Linked DNA regions of Homo sapiens. The protein of the gene in region 1 interacts with the protein of each later gene in a pairwise test. Each region holds a gene or a part of one and is shown in the gene's direction. Other genes may lie near its edges.

Evidence for each region.
Region 2: the proteins of NUDT5 (region 1) and MAPK6 interact in a two-hybrid assay, tested with the Homo sapiens proteins (one large-scale study listed by BioGRID and IntAct).
Region 3: the proteins of NUDT5 (region 1) and NUDT3 interact in a two-hybrid assay, tested with the Homo sapiens proteins (one large-scale study listed by BioGRID and IntAct).
Region 4: the proteins of NUDT5 (region 1) and MCM3AP interact in a two-hybrid assay, tested with the Homo sapiens proteins (one large-scale study listed by BioGRID and IntAct).

What each region holds. Positions count from the first base shown.
Region 1 is NC_000010.11:12,185,892-12,190,350, reverse strand, and holds part of NUDT5 (ADP-sugar pyrophosphatase), read left to right. Parts: intron 1-4,018; 5' UTR 4,019-4,059; coding exon 4,060-4,122; intron 4,123-4,459. UniProt on the Homo sapiens protein: Enzyme that can either act as an ADP-sugar pyrophosphatase in absence of diphosphate or catalyze the synthesis of ATP in presence of diphosphate.
Region 2 is NC_000015.10:52,060,223-52,064,681, forward strand, and holds part of MAPK6 (mitogen-activated protein kinase 6), read left to right. Parts: intron 1-1,076; coding exon 1,077-1,278; intron 1,279-3,679; coding exon 3,680-4,459. UniProt on the Homo sapiens protein: Atypical MAPK protein. Phosphorylates microtubule-associated protein 2 (MAP2) and MAPKAPK5.
Region 3 is NC_000006.12:34,284,670-34,288,169, reverse strand, and holds part of NUDT3 (diphosphoinositol polyphosphate phosphohydrolase 1), read left to right. Parts: 3' UTR 1-3,500. UniProt on the Homo sapiens protein: Cleaves a beta-phosphate from the diphosphate groups in PP-InsP5 (diphosphoinositol pentakisphosphate) and [PP]2-InsP4 (bisdiphosphoinositol tetrakisphosphate), suggesting that it may play a role in signal transduction.
Region 4 is NC_000021.9:46,267,708-46,272,166, reverse strand, and holds part of MCM3AP (germinal-center associated nuclear protein), read left to right. Parts: intron 1-1,603; coding exon 1,604-1,766; intron 1,767-4,459.

The sequences.
Region 1 (4,459 bases):
TTTCCCCTCACTAGTGTTTTTTTTATGCTCTGGAGAATTACACATCCAACACATCCTAGACCTTCAGTGTTCAAACTGAACTGAGTTAAAACGATTTATGAGAATTAAAACAGCTTGTGACTTTAAAGACTAAGGAAAATCATAAATGAAATTGTAGAACACTCGCTGGCGCGGTGACTCACGCCTGTAATTCCAGCACTTTGGCAGGCCGAGGCGGGTGGATCACGAGGTCAGGAGATCGAGACCATCCTAACACGGTGAAACCCCGTCTCTCCTAAAAATACAAAAAATTAATCAGGCATGGTGGCAGGTACCTGTAATCCCAGCTACTTGGGAGGCTGAGGCAGGAGAATGGCATGAACCCAGGAGGCGGAGCTTGCAGTGAGCGGAGATCGCGCCACTGCACTCCAGCCTGGGCGACAAGGCAAGACTCTGTCTCAAAAAAAAAAAAAAAAATTGTAGAACACTCAACATCGTGTACATGTATCTTTTTCATACCATACACATATTGGCAATATGCAAATTACCTTAAATTCTAACTAATGAAGTGGATAAAATTTATATCAAAGTTTGCTTTTAAATCTTGAAATAGCGTTGAGTCAGTGAAGGCAAACTCCGTTGCAGTGGCGGAGACGCTGGCTTACAAAGCACGGAATTTAAAGCTCATTTCTCGTTCTTTCTGCAGCGTGTTGCTGGCAGTGACTGGCCCCCGAATGGCACTATTTGGCTTCTGCTTTTGAAATGGTGCTAAAAACAACATTCCTTTTCTGTTTCTAAAAATTTCTGAGGTACTTTTACAGTCCTTCTGAAATGTTTGGGAATCTCATAGTTAAGAATATGCTCTTGAAATAGCTCATTTTTGTCATTCACGGAATCAGTGGATTGCTGCACGATACTGTTTCCCTTTGAGGCTGATTGCATTCCAAAGAAATACTCTCTTTTAGCGGCCAGGCACGGTGGTTCACGCCTGTAATCCCAGCACTTTGGGAGGCTGAGGCTGGTGGATCACCTGAGGTCAGGAGTTCGAGGCCAGCCTGCCCAACATGGCAAAACCCCATCTCTACTAAAAATGTAAAAATTAGCCGGGTGCAGTGGTAGGAGCCTGTAATCCCAGGTACTCGGGAGGCTGAGGCAGGAGAATCGCTTGAATCCGTGAGGCAGAGGTTGCAGTGAGCCGAGATCATGCCTTTGCACTCCAGCCGGGCAACAAGAGCGAAACTCCATCTCAAAAAAAAAAGTTTACCTAATAAATTATCATCTATGGTACTTTCAAAGGAATAAGTGCCTGTTTTCTTAGTAGGGCTGCAGGTTTCAATATGCTAATGTCTGTCTCTAAATATTTAAACTTCTACGTGGTTTACTTCCTTATTGCTTTCAGGTCTCCATTCAGAAGTCACCAAATTAAACAGGCCTTGCCTGATCACTCCGTGTAGATTACTCTTCCCATCTTCCCCACACTTCTCATCCTTTTTAATCTTTCTTCATGAAACGCTGAGTCACTTGACATAAATTTTGTGTTCTTCCTCACTGTTTTTCCTTTCTCCTCACTGGAAAATGAGGTCCGGGGGAGTGAGGGTCTTTGTCCCTCTCACCACCACTTTTTTTTTTTTTTTTTTTTTTTTAGATGGAGTCTTGCTCTGTCGCCAGGCTGCAGTGCAGTGGCACGATCTCAGCTCACTGCAACCTCCATCTCCTGGGTTCAAGCCATTCTCCTCCCTCAGCCTTCCCTGTAGTTGGGGCTACAGGCGCACCCCACCACGTCCAGCTAATTTTTGTATTTTTAGTAGAGACAGGGTTTCACCATGTTGGCCAGGATGGTCTCCATCTCTTGACCTCGTGATCCACCCGCCCTGGCCTCCCAAAGTGCTGGGATTGTAGGCGTGAGGCGTGAGCCACCGCACCCGGCCTCACCGCCACTTTCCTAAAACATCATCTCACCTTTCACAGGTTGGCCACAAGGGTTACCTATGATAGTCAATCAGATATTTGATTTGTAAACGCACTTTATGAATATTCATACAGTTGGTTTTGTTATTGATTGTATTTTAGAATAGGGAAGCTTGCTGTCTTGGGGACAAATTGAAGATCAGATGGGTAGTATGATCACTTTGGGTCCCAGAAGAAACAAAGAGCAGACTCACTTTTTCCTTTAGGACAGTTGGGAAGAGAGTTGATGCTGGGTGGGCTGTATTTTCTTTGAAGCCGAAGTTAGGTGGGGTAGGTTAGAGAACCGTGGAACGTAAGAGTGCAGTGGCGTGATCTCGGCTCTCTGCAACCCCCAACTCCTGGGTCCAAATGACCCTCCTGCCTCAGCTTCCTGAGTAGCTGGGACTACAGGTGCCCACCACCACACCCGGCTAATTTTTTTATTTTTTATTTTTGTGGAGACAGGGTTTTGCCATGTTACCCAGGCTGGTCTCAGACTCTTGGTCCCCCAAAGGGCTAGGATTCCAGGTGTGAGCCACTGTGCCTGGTCCAAGTAACAGTTCTTAAAAGAAACAACAGAGAAAACACAGGGGAGGAAATCATCAGTGAAGTCGTTCAAGAAAAAAATTCCCTGTAAAGAAGCATAGTAAGAAGTTTCCAGATTGAAAGGACCCACTTGACTTCCCAGTACAATAACATCGACATGAAAGTGACTAACTACAAGCTTCCAGAGGAGGAAGACAGGTCACATGGCAAAAAGATCAAGAATAAGAATAGCTTTGGACTTCTCAACAGCAGCACCAGAAGTAAGACAACTAAGCAATGCCTTACAGTTTCATAGACAACTGGCTTTGGGTCTATAATTCTATATACAGCTGAATTAACAACCATGTGTGTGGGTAAGAAAAAAAGACTTTGACCTTCGGACAGGCAAGGTCCGAAAATGAAGGAATAAAGAAAGAGGAAATAATAATATACAATAAATGGGATAAGGGCCTGCTCTTTTCATAACAGAACTTGTAGTACTACTCGATCCTTTCTCTGCAACTATGACTTTGATACATGCTGAAACTTAAAAGTAAGTGGGGAGGTGGGTCCAGTGGCTCATGCCTGTAATCCCAGCACTTTGGGACACCGAGGCGGGAGGAGGATCGCTTGAGCCCGGGAGTCTGAGACCAGCCTGTGAAACATAGTGAGACCCCACCTCTACCAAAAGTTTAAAACATTAGTTGGCTGTGGTAGCATGCACCTGTAATCCCAGCTACTCAGGAGGCTGAGATGCGAGGAGCACGTGAGCTTGGGAGGTAGAGGCTACAGTGAGCCATGATTTCGCCACTGCACTCCAACCTGTGCAACAGAGTGAGATCTTACATCTCAAAAAATAAGTAAGTTTAGGTGTAACAGATGGATAAAAGACTGAGAGGTGGGCATGGAGAGTGGTAAATCTTTCTTCTGTCTTCCCTTGGAAAGAGTTTAAGATTCGGAGTCAGAAAAATCAGGCTGGGCGCGGTAGCTCACGCCTGTAATCCCAGCACTTTGGGAGGCCAAGGAGGGCAGATCACTTGATGTCAGGAGGTTGAGAGCAGCATGGCCAACGTGGTGAAACCCTGTCTCTACTAAAAATATAAAAATTACCAGGCCTGGTGATGTATGCCTGTAATCCCAGCTACTCGGGAGGCTGAGGCACGAGGATCACTTGAACCCAGGAGGCGGAGGTTGCAGTGAGCTGAGATCGCGCCATTGCACTCCACCCTGGGCAACAGAGTGAGACTCTCTCAAAAAAAACAAAAAAGAAAAAAAAAAAAAGAAAAATCTGATGAAGAAGGGTGGCCTCTAAGTGCCTAGAACAGGCATGGCAGGAGCTTGGCTGTTGTGGCTGAGGGTGACTAGGACTGCTGTCACTTCCTTCCTGGCTAATCCCCGGGCCTCCCTGTTCACATTTCCACCTGCGGCAGTTCCCTCACATACTGAGACAGGCAGCGTTGATGGTAGATGAATTTTTTGCCGTTTAAGTACTTTGACTAGTGTCCTGTGGACGAATGTTTAATTCAGAAAAATAATTTTAGCCTGAACAAATCTCATTATCTTGCAGGGTGAACTTCTCACCTGAGGGCTGTAAAGACTCGTTTGAAAATGGAGAGCCAAGAACCAACGGAATCTTCTCAGAATGGCAAACAGTATATCATTTCAGAGGAGGTATAACTTGTTTTTCACTTTCCCTTCCCTCCCCCACATAAATCTGAGTTTAGCAGAAATATATAGACTGTTGTTACAATGGTGGTCTTTCATTCTTGAAGACAGTTGTAAAGATTTTTCCTACTCCCTTTTTTGGGCTCGGGCACATTTTGCTCTTGTGTGGGAGGAGTAGTGTGTCTCTCTGTGTATTAGTGAAATTGAGACTCTAGGAGATTTGGGCTCTTAACAGAAAAATTCTTAATCCTTCCTGTATTTCCCTAGATAGAAGAAGAAAGAATATATGCATTTGCGGACTCAGATATTTCATATGTAGTTGTCACAACTTGGCTGTTGATGG
Region 2 (4,459 bases), on another chromosome or scaffold:
CAAAGATGCTGTGTCTTAAAATTATCTTTCTAAAGAAAAGAAAAGGGTTCTTTCTAGAGTACAGGTTGGCTTGAGAGAGAAAGGCCATCTTTCTCACTTAGAAGGCAAGGATAAGAGGATGTGTGAGTGACCATAGTGAAGAGGTAGGGATTGAGACAAATGTGAAGTGGGTTTATCTGTTGAGAATGATAAAGAAGACCGAGAGCATAAAGAGAAGGCCAGATAGCAAAGGTCACAATGAAATTGTTTAGTATGAATTTGTAATGAGCCAGATATGGGATATTGCAGCTAGTTTTCATCAGTTTTGTGTGGCCAGGGAGCAGAGAGAGTAGATGGTGGTGGTGATCCAGGGTTGAAGGTTGATATCATAAGGCATAGAAGTGTGTGGCTGGTGTAAATATAGCTTTCAGGCTGCGTGAGGAACTAAGGAAGGCCTACTAGACTATTTTATGGGAAGAACTGGATTTGTGGTTAACCAGAGTCCTAAGATGTGCAAGGTCAGTGTGTGAACTATGCTGGAGTGTGATGTGAAGCAGAGATCAAGAAATTAGTACAACAGAGATGTTTTACTGTTGTACTTCCCATCAGTGAAGGATGGGAAAGGGCTTTTATTACATACCAGACACTATGATTACATCTCATTTTTGTACCTTATGAAATATCTATGTCTACTTTATGCATGAAGAAACTGATGTTCATCAAGTTTTAGTAGCCTATCCAGCACTACAGTGCTAGTAATTGAGTTAAGCCAGTGACTTGCAGAGCTAGGATTAAAACCTATATATTAGGCCGGGATTACAGGCGTGAGCCACCACACTCAGCCAGAAAATCGTTTTTAAGTTGTAAATCAGGTAAGTTTTATTTCTGACAAATTAACTTTTTAATTGTGTAGTCCATTTTTCCCTTTTATAAGATGGGGACCTATTAGTACAATTAAGATGCTCATTTCCTGTTGTGTAGTATGTAGTGCTAAGGTAATCACTTAGCTAGTCATTGAAATAAATGAGATCAACATTTACTGTTTTTCTAAAGGTAAGCAATTCTTTTCTGAAAAACTTTTACCTTTTCCTCTGCAGCACTGGATTTCCTGGAACAAATTTTGACATTTAGCCCCATGGATCGGTTAACAGCAGAAGAAGCACTCTCCCATCCTTACATGAGCATATATTCTTTTCCAATGGATGAGCCAATTTCAAGCCATCCTTTTCATATTGAAGATGAAGTTGATGATATTTTGCTTATGGATGAAACTCACAGTCACATTTATAACTGGGAAAGGTAAATTGATCCTAAATTAGAAAAATAATATTTACTGAACTTTCAGTGGACCATATGTAGTGAGTTTTTTTAAAATTATGTATAAGACATTGTAGAAGTCTTAAAAATTTAGTAATGTAAAGATACAAAAATTAGTCAGGTGTGGTGGCAGGCGCCTGTAGTCCTAGCTACTTGGAGGCTGAGGCAGGAAAATCACTTGAACCCAAGTGGCCGAGGCTGCCGAGATTATGCCACTGCATTCCAGTCTGGGCAATAGAGCAAGACTCCATCTCAAAGAAAAATTTAGTAATGGTCCTTAATATTTATATCTATAAATAGCCGTTAATTAAAACATTTAATAAAGTAATTACTGGTTAGATGATATATGGGAAAAGTTAAATGCTACTTTGAAACATTTTCAAAGTCATTAAGGCATATTTATAAAGTCCTTTAACTGTGATTTTATGAATGTCAAAAATTTAAGATGTTAGATGACAAGACTCAGTCATATCCAATAAAGTATCTCCAGTGTCTCAGTGGTAGTTATATCTTAACATAAAAAGTATTTGATTCATATTAGATGCAGGATTTTTTTTTTTTTTTTTTGAGATGGAATCTCACTCTGTCACCCAGGCTAGAGTGCAGGCTGGAGTGCAGTGATGCAAGCTCAGCTCACTGTCCTGCCTCAGCCTCCCGAGTAGCTGGGATTACAGGTACCCAGCTAATTTTTAGTAGAGGTGGGATTTTATGTTGGCCAGGCTGGTCTCGAACTCCTGACCTCAGGTGATCTGCCTGCCTTGGCCTCCCACAGTGCTGAAATTATAGGCGTGAACCACCGTACTCAGCCAGTATTTGAATCTGTTTTCCTAATGACACAATTAATTTGGGGACACTTAACATAGGTTCAGTAAAAGAGACTTTTTTAGGTCTAAACATTAGTGTATAATGTTATCCATATTTTGATGTTTCATAAAGTGAAATAATTGGATTTCTAGGAAAGTTTGGCTGGGCGCGGTGGCTCATGCCTGTAATCCCAGCACTTTGCGAGGCTGAGGCAGGCCAATTACCTGTGGTCAGGAGTTCGAGACCAGCCTGGCTAACGTGGTGAAACCCGGTCTCTACTAAAAATACAAACATAAGCCAGGCTTGATGGCGGGCTCTTGTAGTCCCAGCTACTCAGGAGGCTGAGGCAGGAGAATCACTTGAACCTGGGAGGCAGCAGTTGCAGTGAGCCGAGATTGCACCACTGCACTCCAGCCTGGGCGACAGAGCAAGACTCCGTTTCAAATAAATAAATAAATACATTTCTGGGGAAGTTTAGATATAATTCTGCTTCAGAGTAGGATGGTAGCTTATAGAGTCATCAGGTGATTTTGATGCTTCAGAGTAGGATGGTAGCTTATAGAGTCATCAGGTGATTTTGATGTATGGCCAAGTTTGGGAACCACTAATGCCAATCTTTTTAATCTTAAGATTTTAAGAAGAAATTTTTTTCCCCCTCCTCAAATGTTGATGTATTGGTATGGTATGTTTACACAAATCTGCAAACTACTTTTTTTCTCCATGTGTCCATTTCTACCCCCTAAATAATGGTTCTTTTCTTTTTTGAGACGGAGTCTCACTCTGTTGCCAGGCTGGAGTGCAATGGTGCCCATCTCTCTGCTCACTGCAACCTCCTGAGTTCAAGCAGTTCTCCTGCCTCAGCCTCCCTACTAGCTGGGACTATAGGCACCCGCCACCATGTTCAGCTAATTTTTGTATTTTTAGTAGTGGGGGTTTCACCATGTTGGCCAGGCTGGTTTCAAACTCCTGACCTCAAGTGATCCATCCACCTTGGCCTTCTTGAAGTGCTAGCATTGCAGGCCTGAGCCACTGCACCTGACCTGCATTTTCTATTTTACCTAGCTAAGTTATCTAATCTCTTTTCTTTTCCCTCAATGATTATACATGTCAGTAATAGGATAGCGCATTCAGCAGCACGTATACACAGGGAGATTTTTGCTATTCATGGTGATGAGTTTTCCAGCAAACCTCCTCCTCTTCTAGTTGCCCTTACTGTAGAGTAAACATTTAGCAAACCTCCTCCTCTTCTAGTTGCCCTTACTGTAGAGTAAACATTTGTAAGGTACCTGATTGAGATTTGAGATCTGCATTTTGTGGCTATGAAGTCTTTTGTTTGCATGGAACTGGTGGACAAAAAACAAATTGGAAATGAAGTTACATACTGCATTGGCAATTACCAAATATATTAACAGAGCTTTCCTATCAAGACTAAGTTCTGGTAGGGCAAGGCAGGCATATTTACTCTCCTATAATTATCCCCTCATAGACCTAGCACAGTGCTGTCACATAGAAGGTACTCGGTGAATTTGAAAATGAAATCATATACGTAGAATAACGCTAGTGTATTGATTTTTTTCAGGTATCATGATTGTCAGTTTTCAGAGCATGATTGGCCTGTACATAACAACTTTGATATTGATGAAGTTCAGCTTGATCCAAGAGCTCTGTCCGATGTCACTGATGAAGAAGAAGTACAAGTTGATCCCCGAAAATATTTGGATGGAGATCGGGAAAAGTATCTGGAGGATCCTGCTTTTGATACCAATTACTCTACTGAGCCTTGTTGGCAATACTCAGATCATCATGAAAACAAATATTGTGATCTGGAGTGTAGCCATACTTGTAACTACAAAACGAGGTCATCATCATATTTAGATAACTTAGTTTGGAGAGAGAGTGAAGTTAACCATTACTATGAACCCAAGCTTATTATAGATCTTTCCAATTGGAAAGAACAAAGCAAAGAAAAATCTGATAAGAAAGGCAAATCAAAATGTGAAAGGAATGGATTGGTTAAAGCCCAGATAGCGCTAGAGGAAGCATCACAGCAACTGGCTGGAAAAGAAAGGGAAAAGAATCAGGGATTTGATTTTGATTCCTTTATTGCAGGAACTATTCAGCTTAGTTCCCAGCATGAGCCTACTGATGTTGTTGATAAATTAAATGACTTGAATAGCTCAGTGTCCCAACTAGAATTGAAAAGTTTGATATCAAAGTCAGTAAGCCAAGAAAAACAGGAAAAAGGAATGGCAAATCTGGCTCAATTAGAAGCCTTGTACCAGTCTTCTTGGGACAGCCAGTTTGTGAGTGGTGGGGAGGACTGTTTTTTCATAAATCAGTTTTGTGAGGTAAGGAAGGA
Region 3 (3,500 bases), on another chromosome or scaffold:
CTAGAATTGAGAGCCTCACAATTAACATACCTTTTTGTTTTCGATGCTAGTGGCTGGGCAGGTTGCCCTGTCCTTTCTCTATTTCCCAGTCATTGACTGTAGATATGGGAAGAGTTTAGCTACCTTCATAGTGCTCCCAGGACTCATGGCCTTTCCTTCTTTAAGCTGTATTTCCCTGCCCAGAAAGAAACAGGAAGAAACCTTTTTTTATTTTTTTATTTTTTTTTAACCAAGCAAGGAGCAAATGGCCTCAGCCCAGATCTGTAAAAACAATGATAGAAATTGAATTCTGCCCCACATGTTGACAGTAGAGTTGGAACTGGATTCTTGGGATTACTTATCTAAAAAACTGGAGCATCAGGTCCATTTCTGTTCTGCTGGTTTGGAATCTTTTCCGTAATGCTATTTATTGCCAACAATGGCCTCTCTTTGTGTCCATATATGCCTTACACCGTGCTGACCTGGGTATCATCCATGTGCTCTGAAGCATCCAACTTTACTTTGCAGGTGCATCAATGTAGTCCTGTCCCTGAACTGAGTAACCGTGTTCCTGAAAAGTACACTAGGGAAATTCACCTGCTTGCTTGTCTTTGTATTGGCATGGCACTTGTGATTGCACCATGGAGCATGCTCAGAGCTATTAAATTGGTCTCCCATCTCCCACCAGGATATGAAAGGTCCATATGGGAGGCCACGTAATCACTTATTACAGTGGTTACATAATACACTGGCTCACTGCAGACTCTCTTGTTTTTTGATACAGTTTCGTGCTGGCTTCATTTGCCAATTGTGTTGTTTAGTTCGGAAGTAAGAGGGTCTTGAGATTGAGGGGTAGGGAGGGCTACACTGACTGATCCGTGGCTTAAGACAGGAGATTATCTCTGTACTCCAGTGGCATCTCCTTAGCCAAGATGTGAAATTAAAATCATAGTTCGCCTCATTTAAAAATTCTAATAAAGCACTCAAACTTTGAAAAGCTTTTACTTTTCCCTCCTACTAAAAGAAATGTATGTACCTCATAGCCCTGTGTCATTTAGTGTTCAGCACTTTTGGGAACATCAGTTGGTGAACTTTAAATTTTGCTGTCTACTCACTGGGCACGGTGGCTCACACCTGTAATCCCAGCACTTTGGGAGGCTGAGGCAGGTGGATCACCTGAGGTCAGGAGTTTGAGACCAGCCTGACCAACATGGTGAAACCCCGTCTCTACTAAAAATGCAGAAATTAGGTGGGCGCCTGTAATCCCAGCTACTTGGGAGGCTGAGGCGAGATAATCGCTTGAACCTGGGAGGCAGAGGTTGCAGTGAGCCGAGATTGCACCACTGTCGTCCAGCCTGGGTGATAAGAGTGAAACTCCATCTCAAAAAAAAAAAAAAAAAATTTTTTTTTTTTTTTTTGCTATATACTCTTAGTTTACATCCTCTCCCCCAATCTTCACACACAGAGCCAAAGAGCAGTTATATTCTTGGGATACCATGATACCTCTGGGAAAGGAATTATATTCCCAAGGAGAGGTCCCATTGGATAAGAACAATACCATGGGACTTGAGTCTGAATGCCAACTTACTATTCACACATCCTTCTTAAAAACGAACACACTGTTTCTTTTCCTGACCTAGAGCATTCTAAAGTTCTGTTCAAATAAATAAAGGGCAAAATAAAGTAGATTTAACCAAGTGCCAGGTGGAATTCAAAAAACACATTCTTCCAGATAAATTCTACCTTTATGGTATGGATTTGAAAGTACTTTGCAGGAAAACAGTCAGTACTCTTTAAAAAGGGACTGCAGGGCTGGGTGTAGTGGCTCACACCTGTAATCCCAGCACTTTGGGAGGCCAAGGCAGGTGGGTCACTTGAGGCCAGGAGTTTGAGACCAGCCTGACCAACATGGCAAAACCCCATCTCTACTAAAATACAAAAATTAGCTGGGCATGATGGTGCACTCCTGTAATCCCAGCTACTTGGTAGGCTGAAGCATGAGAATTGCTTAAACCTGGGAGGCAGAGGTTGCAGTAAGCCAAGATCATGCCACTGCACTCCAGCCTGGGCAACAGAGTAAGACTCTGTCTTAATAAATAAATAAGAAAATAAAACGGAACTGCAGTGCTAACAGTAATTTATACATTTTTAAATGTTCTGAGTATGTTTTGACTGGGCTAGTGTAACAATATACTACCCTGAAAGTGCAGTTTTGATTGTTGTTGGTGTCTTTGGGTCAGGAAAGTGAACTGTGCCAAGAAGTATTTTTCAGTGACATGAATGGATTCCTGTTAATGCAATTGACTGAGAGATTGTGCTTACGCTTTCTTAACTGACAAAAAGAGGCTTTGTCCAACATCAGAATTGTTGAAACTGGTGCTGTTTTCTGTTGCACTGGGATTCTGATGATCTGGGATTTTCCCTCCTTGGCACAGTAAACACCATGACTGTCTTTATTGAGAATGTCGTCACAGTCCTTTAGTGATAGATTAGTTAGACCCATGGTTGCAATACCTTTATCTCCCCAAAGAAAATAATCAAAAGAAAGCACAAAAGCTACCCTGTTTGCAGAATATTTCACTGACATTGATTTGTCATTAATTCTACCAGAGCTGACCTCATTCAGGCTTGATAGAAACAGGTTCCTATGTTTAGGGCAGATCCCTAGCCTCTCGCTCACAGTGAGTCTGCATGTCCTAGATTCTGGTTATTGCTGGAGCATCCATTAAAGTCTACCAAACTCAGGACAGAAGAAGATAGCAGTGGATTTGTAAAAATTTTTAGTTTATAAATTACAGTCATTGGGGAAACACTAGTAAGGTCATGTGATCTTTTGGACCAGGATTTTCTCTCTGTCTTCTCTCTGGGTGTGTGTGTGTGTATGTACAGAAGGGCTACCAGGAAGTGTCAACCATGTTAGATTTTCTGTAGTCTTCCAGAAACAGTGCAGCCCATACAACAGGAATCTTAATTTTCCTCACAGCAAATATAACAGGATGGAACAGTTAGTGTTTTGTTTTCACAAGTGTCCACCACTCCATCTGCCCTGCATGGAGAGGGCTCTCTCACTGCTAGATCTAGGCTGAGCCATCTGGAAGGATCAAAGGGTGTGGGAGTATCACCCCCTCTCAGGCTGCAGAAGGTCTCGAGGGTGGCGTCACAGCAGGATTTCCGCCTTCTGCATTGCACTGCACAGCCCCATGGAACATGAGGCACTTGAGGCCTTGCTTCTTGGAGCCTCTGGGGAGCAGAGTAGGTCACTGCCCTCTGGGAGTGTTTTGCAGTAGTTTTGTAAATGTGTTGCTACATAGTCAAGTTCCTTTGTGGCAAAGAAATATTTTGTTTTGATATTAGGAGCCAGCCCATGTAATGCCTCTCAGGCTTGCTTGCTTAGAAGAAAAAAGTCACCCTTTGTGGTTTTTAAGAAAAAAATTCTGTGCAGATCTGTTCCTCCTCCTGCTCCTTCCCTTTTCTCTACATACAGTGCTCATTGGAGGCTCCTGCTAAACCTTCTTAACCAG
Region 4 (4,459 bases), on another chromosome or scaffold:
GGAAAAAATTATGTAAAACAAAAATGCGAAGAATGGGGTAGTGAGAATGAATGAATGTAAAACCCTGGTCTGATCCATAATTAGTCACTTACATGCGAAGTCTGGCGAGCTCTCTGGCCCTCTGCTTGTGGTGGACCCTCTGCTTGTGGTTAAGCTGGACTTATGGTGGACAGTGTCCCCTTTAGTTCTAAGAATCCCCTATCAATGGTGAACCTCTTTTTTTTTTCTTTGTATTTTCCTCAAGAACTGTGTGACAGAATATCTAGATGTGTGGTTGATTTTAATTTTTTATTTCATTTTATTTTTGAGACCGAGTCCTGCTCTGTTGCCCAGGCCGGAGTACAGTAGTGCGATCTTGGCTCACTGCAACCTCCACCTCCTGGGTTCAAGCGATTCTCTTGCCTCAGTCTCCTGAGTAGCTGGGATTACAGGCACATACCACCATGCCCGCCTCATTTTTTTGTATTTTTAGTAGAGACAGGGTTTCACCATGTTGGCCAGGCTTGTCCGGAACTCCTGACCTCAGGTGATCCACCTGCCTCGGCCTCCCAAAGTGCTGGGATTACAGTTAGAGTCTCCATGCCCGGCTGATTTTAAATTTTAAAATTAAGCCTTGTATAGCCTGGGCAACATGGTGAGACCCTTCCACAAAAATGAATAAATAAATAAAATTAACCAGGTGTGGTGATGTGTGCCTGTAGTTCCAGCGACTGGGGAGGCTGAGGTGGGAGGATCCCTTGAGCCCAGGAGGTCAAGGCTGCAGTAAGCTGTGATCATGCCACTGTCCTCCAGTCTGGGTGACAAAGCAAGACCCTATCTCTTAAAAAAAAAAAAAAAAAACCCAGGTGTGGTGGCCCATGGCCTGTTATCACAGCACTTTGGGAGGCCGAGATGAGAGGGTTGCTTGAGGCCAGGAGGTTGAAGCTGCAATGAACTGTGATTGTGCCAGTGCACTCCAGCCTGGGTGATAGAGCAAGTACTCTGTCTCAAAAAAAAAAAAAATTAAACTGGTTATGAAAGATTGCTGTATTGTCTTTTTCTACGTGACAAGCATTTGTTCTCCATCACGAATAATTCAGTCAAAATCAATTCATTTCTAAACAAAAAGAGTTAAGTTTTCTGTTTTTTAGACTTTACCATCCAGCACAGCTGACAGTCCATTGGCATTACTTTAAAGTAACTTTTTGATAACTGATTCCTAAATTGCTTTTTGAATTTGTTTATTCTATTCATTATTGTTTTGAAGGAAACCTTTGTCAAACCAATCCAAGCGTGGTAGTTAGTAAACTATGAATTTAACGGCACATTTCACCAGTAAGACCCTCCTTCTCAGTATGGTTGAAATCCAGTATCATTATTACTTGAGACAGGGTCTTGCTCTGTCACCCAGGCTGGAGTACAGTGATGCGATCACAGCTCACTGCAGCCTCAACCTCCTGGGCTCAAACGATCCTCCCACCTTGGCCTCCCCACGTTTTGGGATTACAGGTGTGAGCCACTGCATCTGGCCAGTGAAATCTATTATTTATCAGATCTATCTTCATGAAAATTTTGTCTTATTTAAAATAACATTCCAACCCCTTTTCTCTCCTTTAATTAACAGAGAAGTACAACAGTTCCATCCTGCTGTTAGAAACTCATCTGAGGTGAAATTTGCTGTTCAGGCTTTTGCTGCATTGAACAGTAATAATTTTGTGAGATTTTTCAAACTGGTCCAGTCAGCTTCTTACCTGAACGCTTGTCTTTTACACTGTTACTTCAGTCAGGTGAGTAAATGAGCTGTGCTTGCAGAGTTGGAAGAAAGCAGGTGGTTCTTGTGCTGTTTGGGTGCTTTCTTATTCCAAGCTTTTCAAAGGAGGTCTCAGGCTGATGCTGTGTCACCCTTGCAGCAGCCCCACGAAGGGGTTACCGGTGTTGCCCTGTTTTATAGGGGTTATCACTGTTGGTCACCATCCGGAAAGGCTGTGCAATGGAAAATACTGTTCCATGGTTCAAATAAGAAAAATCTCTTTGGGAAAACATAGGTTGAATTCAGCACTATCATCATCCATGAAAGCTAACTAAAAAGCAAAAATCTCATATCATATGCACAAAATCTCTGACTTTGAAATGCTTCATGTTTTAAATCGAAGTTTCTGGAGTGAGGCTGATGGCGCTAAGTTCCTTTCAGTGGGTGCCTCAGTGTCTGTGCTTTGCCGTGTGCTAGGGTTGCAGAGGCAATGGGAAGGCCAGTCCCTCCCCTGGGGTTTGCGCAGAGTAAACTGTGTCTTGGGGTTTCCAGTCGGTTATTTTGTTCCACTTCCACGGAACTTGGGGATGAGGACAGAGCAGCCCCTGTAGCACCTGCTGTTCTAGGCCCTGCATGATTCCGTTCAGTGCAATGTGACCAGGACCGCGGCCCACCGCACAGAGCGCCACCTCACCTCGCACACACTCTGCTGCCCATTCTGGCAGCGGCTCCAAGGAGGCTGCCAGGATTCCTTGCCACAAGCCCGTAGTGGCCACAGCGTGGGGAGGATGCTGCCTGGGAGATCCTGGGACCTGCCTTGGTTGATCTGTGGCTCCAGGTCATTTCTTTGGTCACACATCAGGGCCTCCTGTAAACAGTGACTAAACCCACAGTCATGTCACAGTCAGAAGGTCTTTTGCAGGTTTGCTCCTTGTCAGATCTGCAGGTTGCCAAACAGAACTGATATTCTGGAGTAAATGAAAAGGTTTTCCACAACTTGCCACTTGTAGTTAATATTGGCTGGGTGCTTTGGCTCACACCTGTTATCCTGGCACCTTGGCAAACTTGGGAGGTGGGAAAATTGCTTGAGCTCAGGAGTTCAAGGCCAGCCTGGGCAACATAGGGAGGCCCTGTCTCTACTAAAAATAAAAAAAAAGCCAGGCAGGTGTGGTGGGATGCTCCTGTAGTCCCAGCTACTCAGGAGGCTGAGGTGGGAGGATCGCTTGAGCCCAGGAAGTTGAGGCTGCAGTGAGCCAAGATCTGCACTCTCCAGCCTGGGCAACAGAGGCCCTCTCAAAAAAAATAAACAAAAATAAAACATAGTTAATGTTGTATACACGATGATTGAGCGTTAGTAGAATGTTGACCATTTTTAATAACTTTATTTATTTATTTATTTAGAGATGGAGTCTCGCTCTGTTGCCCAGGCTGGAGTGCAGTGGCATGATCTCTGCTCACCGCAACTTCTGCCTCCTGGGTTCAAGTGATTCTCCTGCCTGAGCCTCCCTCCCCAGTAGCTGGGACTACAGGAGCCCGCCACCACGCCCAGCTAACTTAGTAGAGATGGGATTTCGCCATGCTGGCCAGGCTGATCTCGAACTCCTAGCCTCAGGTGATCCACCCACCTCGGCCTCCCAAAGTGCTGGGATTACAGGCATGAACCACCTTGCCTGGCCGTTTTTAATAACTTTAAACAAAAGAGATATTCGGGTATTTTTCTTTAGAAAAGCTCTTCACCGGCAGTGGCGCACAGAGGCAGCCTCCTGTCCCCGCAGCCCTGTGCACTCCTGCTCAGAGGCTTTGTGCTTGCTGTTTCCACTGCTGTTCCACACTCGCAGAGCCGCACGGCGCTGTCTCCACCTCCCTGAGGCCAGGCGAGGCTTGGCTGCCGCCCTCAGCAGGGCCCCCACCAGCGCTCCCTGCTCTCCCTGCCCATCTGCCGCACTAAATCACCATTCTGTGTGTTTGATGTGTTTGTTTTCTGTGGCATTGGTCTCTCCCCTGGCATGTCAGCTATGTGGGGACAGGGATTGTGTTTTTGTTCACTGTTGTACTCTCAGCATTAAAAACGGTGCCAGGCACAGAGCAAATGCTTGATCAGTGTTGGTTGAATTAAAGAACATCGGAAGAGGACTAACAGCTTAGGTACCAAAGTCCCAGCACTCAAGCAGAATTTTTGTTCGGATTTTCATGTTTTTCCTTTGTCTATTTTTACTTTTATTTTTATTTATTTATTTTTTTGAGATGGAGTCTCACTTTGTCACCCAGGCTGGAGTGCAGTGGCATGATCTCGGCTCACTGAAACCTCCACCTCCCGGGTTGAAGTGATTCTCCTGCCTCAGCCTCCCTAGTAGCTGGTATTACAGGTGCGTGCCACCACACCCAGCTAATTTTTGTATTTTTAGTAGAGATGGGGTTTCACCATGTTGGCCAGGCTGGTCTCAAACTCCTGGCTTCAAGTGACCCGCCTGCCTTGGCCTCCCAAAGTGCTGGGATTACAGGCGTGAGCCACCACACCCAGCCCCATTGTCTTTTTTTTAAGACACTGGTTCTCACTCTGTCACCTAGGCTGGAGTGCAGTGGTGTGATCAAGGCTTACTGCAGCCTCAACCTCTTGGGCTCAAGCAGTCCTCCCACTTTAGCCTCCCATGTTGCTGGGACCACAGGTGCATGCCACCAAGCCCCACTAATTAAAACAAATTTTTTTTTATAGAGAATAGGATGTAGCTA